2 separate regions of the Homo sapiens genome follow, and region 1 is reported to be linked to region 2. Evidence: microRNA targets listed by miRTarBase, many of them from high-throughput screens and not tested one by one. Region 2 holds a microRNA gene; the other region holds the end of a gene's coding sequence.
Evidence for each region. The annotated mature microRNA hsa-miR-133a-5p reads AGCUGGUAAAAUGGAACCAAAU and lies in region 2 at 2,176-2,197, shown strand. An mRNA with a match to its seed (bases 2 to 7 or 8) in the 3' UTR can be bound and repressed. Matches are read on the target gene's strand: a 7mer-m8 pairs with bases 2 to 8, a 7mer-A1 pairs with bases 2 to 7 and ends in A, and an 8mer does both.

Region 1 (3,235 bases), not on the chromosome of region 2:
GTCAGGCTGGTCTGAACTCCTGCCTTCAGGTGATCCACCTGCCTCAGCCTTCCAAAGTGCTGGGATTACAGGCATAAGCCACCACGCCCCACCAATGAAATGTTTTCTAAAGGTGTTTTCATCCCTTTTGTGATCTCCTAAACTCCCAAGGTGTATCACACACTTCGCTGGGCTCTGGGCAAACAAAACTTAGACAAGGTCCCTGATTCTAGAAACCCTCGGTCGAGGGAACCACAAACCAACCAGAGTGGAGGGCAGGGAGAGGTCCTAGGTTGGGAGCTGGGAGCCTGGAGCACGTGCCAGGTGCTCTGCAGCCCAGCTTCATTATGGAGGCTCAAGCGCTGTGAATTTCCAAAAACAGTGAACACACCCCTAGCTGATTGAAATACAAAAAACATATTCCACAGCCAAATGAAAATGACTTTTGGATCCTCCACCTAATTTGGGTGTTTATGCCGCCTCGCCCCTCTTTTGGCCTGGACAATTGAAATATATCTGCTCTCAGGGGAGACGCCCACGGTGTCAGGGCTGGAGTTGGCAAGAGACAGGGGGAAGAGGACTAGACCTGGAGTCAGAGATGAAGTTCTTGTCTGGGATCTGTCACTAAGTCTCAGCGGGGACCCAGGAAGTCACTCCACCTCTCATAGTTCCTCATCCACAAAGTGGAAATACAAGCAAGTTTAATTCTCCATCGTAAGGTTGGAGCTCCTGTCTGTGAAAGGACTGGAAATGTAAAATGCGCTCTTCAAGTACAAAGGCAGAGAGGATCCATAAACAGGCACAGGCTGCCCTTTGGTATAAACTGTTCACATTAAATCTATGTTATGTTGCTCAAGAGTTAAAATAAGCTCAAAGGAGAGGCTGATTCCAATGTCAACCCAGGGAAGACAGACACTGAAATTCCAAACTGAGTTACCAAAAACAATAGATGGATGAGACATGCAGACATGCCACAATCCGGCACATCAGAGTTCGATGTAGTCCTGCTGCAAACACATGGAATCCGAGAAGTCCAATGCAAACGGAATAGATTTCTTGGGATCTAATATTTTTCAAATTGCCTGACCAGCTTACCTTCTAGGAAAACTTATTTAAGGGAGGCAAATAATTTGGGGAGATGAGTATAAGAGGTAGTAGGAGGAAGCTAAGGGAAATCACCACTACATATTGCAGGAATGTATTAGAAGGCAAATATGGCCCAAAGAAAAAGCTCCACTGAAAAAAACATTGAATACTGACCACAGAATTAGCACCTTGCTCCCAGGTCAATAAAGTGAACCAAAAAAATTACAAAGACCTTGCTCAATCCTGAGGTTCGTGAGGAATATAGGAGAGTTGTGTGTTCACGTGACTCCTGAAAACAAAGAGCAGTACTATTCGAAGGGCATGATGTCTTGATCTTAGGATCAAATATTCTAGACCTTGAGCCGGAGAATCTGCATTACAGTAGGAAAAATGGGGAGTGCTTTATGCCTGTGGATTCAGGACACACCAGCAACCTACACGTGTAGCATTCTCTAAGTCATAATGACCATTCTCATCTCCCACTGAGGGCAGGTGTAAGACTCTTCTCTTGCAGTGCTCTGATAGAAAGCTGGGTTTCTTCTTCTTCTCTATAAATCATAGGGAAACCAAATATTTGTACCTGTTACAGCCCCAAAGCTGAAAGCAATAAAGAATAAACACATACAGCAAGCTACGAGGTGCGTCTGTTTAGGAATTGCCTCAACGTTGGGTTTCTATTGATAGAACAGGGGAGGAGGTTGCCTCTGACCTTCCTGAGGCTCCCACTGTACCCTGGCTGAGTAGCCCACAGTTAATTTTAAGTGGCAAAAGAAATGAGAACAAATTCCTCCAGGAAGAGAAATTAGATTTCTGCTAAAACAGTGCTCTCCATAGGGTATATGAGCACATTCGACTACCACTGGAAAATAACCTGAGGGCAGGCACATGGTGCCCACTGTTAGAAATCGTGCAGTTAGATTAGAATGGAAGAGTGTCTGAGTTTTTAGATAATTTTACACGTCAGGATATGGCTAACAGGTCACGTTCAGGGCCTATGCTTGATACTGTCGAAATACAAACAAAAATAACTGCCTAGAGAGAATATTCACGTCCTAAAAGAGAAAATGTTGTATCTGGGTGGAAGAATGATTTAACTCCTGAAACTCGAGAACACAGAACAACAACAAAAATAATTTCCTTGAACATATTCAACTAGAATGGCAAGGCATTTTCCTACATAAAACATTAGAATGTTCCCATTACTCCAAAGGAATCCAATAAATAATTTTACAGTGAAAGAGCCTGGATCAAAACTGGAAGTGACACCGGCCCCCGATGAACACAAGTCACAGGTCCCTGTGCAGGTCCCAGGGCTGAGTCATCCAAGAACTCCACCACCACCGTGAGCCCGGCCTCCGGTTTCATCTTTCCCGAATGGGACTGGCTGGAGGGGCCAAGCTGCTTTACAGAAGAGTTCCATCTGGTAAGCCCGGGTGGTGAGCGAAGCCAAAGATGACAACACGAGAAGGGGTCAAAGCCAAGGTTTCCTCACGCTGCCTTTGTCTTCTTCCTGCAGCCTGGCCCGATGGCTGAAGCTGGGTCCCAGGAGGCGAGTTCTTCAGCGGGGCCTCCTCACCCAGGCTGGAGCAAGTCCGCTGCACCCGTCAAGCGGGGAAGAGCTCGGGCGGGCTTTCTCCATAGCAATACTTTGCTATGGGGTCCCGGTAGGTGTTCTCATGCTGCACGCTCTGTTGGCAAAAGGAAAATAAGAGCGCAGTGAGAGCGAGCACAGCTTCACACACCTCCCTCTCGGAAGAGTGAGAGTGGATCGGGACTGTCAGACTCTCCCTGCAGGGGGCTGGCCGAGTCCATCTCCAAATGTCACTAAAGGCTCCAGGGCACTTTCTGGAACAAAGAAGAATGCTCAACCCAGAATGCCAATGAAGAGCATGAACACAGACATAACATCGCTGTGGGACTGTTTCTTTTTATGTACACCAGTGAGTTTTTAAATAACTTTGCTGTGACCTGGTGACTCAAGACAACTACTTTTCCTCAAATTACTTGAAACAGTCTAAGATCCAATGGGTGTTTTGCACCTGATCCTGAGCTTCACTCAGTTCCCGTAAGGAACCCTGCAGAGACACTAAGGAGATGCACTTTAAATTGCTTTCATAAAGTTTATGTACCTAAAAATTTGGGGCATGAGCCAAATCCTACAATACCATGC
Region 2 (3,282 bases):
GGGAACCTCCCTAAGCCAGGCCACATTGGGGTGAGGGTACCTGGAGGCTGGCTGCCACCTCATGGGGCAGCATGAAGAGAGAAGGGCCTGGGCCCCGGGGCAGGGGACGCTGCTGTGAGCCCCAGTGTCCTCCTGAGGGGCAGCACAGGACTGGCCTTGAGGTACAGTGGGGTGTATGGGAGAAGACGGTGGCTGTCGGTGCTCAGGGCCGCACCTGGCACTTGGCCGCTCGGTGTCTATTCACAGCTCACGCCCACCACCGTGGCGGCTGCAACGCCAAGCTTGATGCCTCATCCAAGGCCGCAGTGGCCTCCCCGTGGGGGTTTTGCAGCCTGCCCCAGTGCTCTGCTGCCTTTCGGGTGAAATGACCAGTTTGTTTGCTATGTTGATTGGCAAATGCCAGACCTCCCAGCTCCTGATGGGATAGAATCGCGGCTGGGACTCGAATCCCCGGCTTGATCTTGTCAAATCTTCTGCTCCATTAGGAATATTGACAGGCGATAAATGGACAAGTGTGTGCCGGCTTCGAGGTCTTTGAGCCGTCCTCACTCCAGGGCCAGGGAGGGGTGGACTCTGGGAGCCTTGAGGTCTGCCCTGCACCCTCTGTGCTACTGGAGTAAGGAGGAGAGAGGTTTGCAGAGTGTGGGCTGATGGCCCGGAAGCCTCTCTGTTTTGGGGCGCGAGGCTGAGAAGGCTGGGGCCCAGCCCCGACTTATAGGGGACTTTGAGGAGGTGGTCCTCCTACACGGCACAGATCTTTCTGGAGGGCACCGTGGCAGGGACAGTCAGGGAAGGCAGCTACGGACGGGTCAGAGCAGGCCTGGCAGAGGCTGGGGTGGGGGGTCGTCCAGCTCAGTCACTCCCAGAGGGGACTTGGAGCGTGGGCATGGTGCTGTGCGACCGTCCCTTTTGCCTGAGGGGCCTGAGCTTCTGTCCCTGCAATGTCAGGAGGGGGACAGAAAGGCCAGAGGACAGGCAGGCAGGGCAGCCCCAGGTGTGCAACGGGCAGGCAGGTGGCACAGGCCCTAGTGCGCAGCGCCCACTCTGCCAACCTGGTGGGCGAGGAGCAGGTGCGTTCACCTGTGCTGCCCAGGACGGCCTGTGCTCCCGGATAGAAGCTCACACACATGGGTGCCACATCCCCAGCACTGCCGGAGACACTCTCCCTCACCTGTCACGGCTCCTGATGAACGGGGGCTGCAGGGAGACTCATTTTATAAAAGGGAACTTGCTCTCAAGGCACTGAAGGTGACATTGGTGTGGGGGACGCGGGAGCCAGGCAAGAGTGATGTCACGTTCGGACCTCCGTCCTGACACTCCATCCTCACAGTTCCCTTGGGCATGGAAATGCCCCTCAGCAAGATGCGGGCAGGGCTGCAGGTCTGGGGCATGGGGCCCAGGGTCAGGCCACGAAGGCCCCCTCAGGCTGTCCTCCCACCACCATGCAATGTGGACGTCCCTGGAATCTTCCCGTCCTGCCTACCCAGAGATACCATGTGGTGTCAGAGTCCATCCCGTCCCACCCAGGCCATGGCAAGCCAGGCAGGACGGGGTCCTGGGTGGGCTGCCCCATGGTTAGCCAGGGCCCAAGGCTCACTGGGAGGTCTGTCCTGCCTCTGCTCCAGCTATGAGCATGGTCTGGGAGGAGTTTGCAGGGGAATAAGGGCCTCAAACCTGCAAGATCACTGTGCCCACAGATGTGAGCCCCCTGGGGCGGGGCCCGATGGTCTGAGCTGTATCCCACAGCTGAGGCTAGTGCTGGGGGCAGTGGGCACTTGGTGAAGCGAGGGCTGTGGAGGAATCGGGCGGTGACAGGCAGAGAGCAGTGAGTGTCAGTTCCAGAGCATGGAGGCCGCCTGGCACCCCCGACCCTCCCCAGACCCCTGCGGGTCCCCGATGGGGGAGCCCGGGCAGAGCGAGAGGGTGGTGAGTTGCGTGTGAGCGGGTGTGTGTGTCTGTGTATGTCTGAGTGTGTGTGTGTGTTGGGGCGTGTGGCCCTTCACACCAGTCCCTGCAGAGCTTGAGGGAAACTCCACGGGGTGGGGGCCCTCCGGGAGTTGGGGTAAGGGCCTGATGCTGGCCGCGAAGCCCCATCTCCATCGGGACTGCTTGGTGGAGCCGCCTTCTTCACCGACGTCGCTGTTCCTCGGATCTGGGAGCCAAATGCTTTGCTAGAGCTGGTAAAATGGAACCAAATCGACTGTCCAATGGATTTGGTCCCCTTCAACCAGCTGTAGCTGTGCATTGATGGCGCCGTGCGGCCCGGCCGCAGGTCCCGCAGCCGTGGAGAGGACCCAGCAGGTGGCGCGGGGAGAGCCCGGCTCGGCACGTGGTCAGCTCCAAGTAAGTGAAGCCCTGAGTGCCGCCCCCGCCCCCGGAACACTTCAGTGCAGAGCCCGAGACCCTTCCCCCTGAAAGTGGGTGGCTGAGGAACGGGGTCATCCCCACAGCTGGGTGCTCCTGCTTGTTCCTCCTTGCCAGGGCACCATGAAACCAATGTTCATTGCTCACACAAGAGCTTTGCTTGAAAATGTGGGCTTAGGAGCTGGGCCCTGTGGGTTGGGCCTGCCGGGGGCCTGGGCTGGCCCCGCCCTGTCCTCTTCCCAAGGACCCTTCTTCGATTTCTCCTTTAAAATGGCCTGGACTCTAAGGCACCTCCAGGGACCCACAGGGGTGAGCACGGATGCTGCGCTGGTGACCTGTGGGGGTCTGTGTCCTCAGTGGGGAGGCCTGGGCCGGTGGCATCTCTCCAGATGGCCTGAGGGGTGCTGGGCCTGGCAGGGAGACTACCAAACAGGAGCCCCTCAGCATGGCCCGTGGCTGGGGAGGTGCCTGTGAAGGTTGCTGGGGCCCCCAGGGGCTCCCCATCTCCCCACCCTCTTGCGGGAGGCAGTGACGCCCATGTGCAGGGAAGCTGGGCCATCAACGGGCACAGCTGCAGTGAGCAGAGATCTGCAAGGGGGTCTGCAGGCCAGGTGGCACCCAGGACCCATTGTGGGGGTCCCCGACCATGTGCCCTTCCCTTGGCAGGGGCTGGCATGAAGGGGCTCAGGCTGCTGGGCGCCAGCAGATTGGAGGCCTGGGCAGGCACGGGGGCTCCTGCTGGGCATCTCTAGGCCTGGGGTTCCAGGGCCTGTCAGGAGTGACCCCTGACTTCTGCCCAGAGTTGCAGACGTGGGGCCTCCCCTCAGGGGCCACCAGCTGCCGGCCCCAGGGCAGGTGAGGCGAGGGTCAGGACCCTGGGAGGGATGAGCAGAGGGAAGGGGCATGGTAGGCAGAAGG

Region 1: miRTarBase lists SPRING1 as a target of hsa-miR-133a-5p. The part of its 3' UTR that is shown has no 7-base or 8-base seed match.

Annotation. Positions count from the first base shown.
Region 1 is chr12:116,715,141-116,718,375 of GRCh38, forward strand. SPRING1 (SREBF pathway regulator in golgi 1) reads right to left here. Exons shown (of 5, transcript NM_024738.4): 5 at 1-2,753. The coding sequence ends at 2,670. Among named protein-coding and RNA genes, the nearest start is that of SPRING1, 21 kb to the right of the region's middle. RefSeq lists enhancers at 2,052-2,581, 2,582-3,111.
Region 2 is chr20:62,562,758-62,566,039 of GRCh38, forward strand. MIR133A2 (microRNA 133a-2) reads left to right here and starts at 2,155; the gene lies at 2,155-2,256. MIR1-1HG (MIR1-1 host gene) reads left to right here. Exons shown (of 4, transcript NR_171007.1): 3 at 2,232-2,343.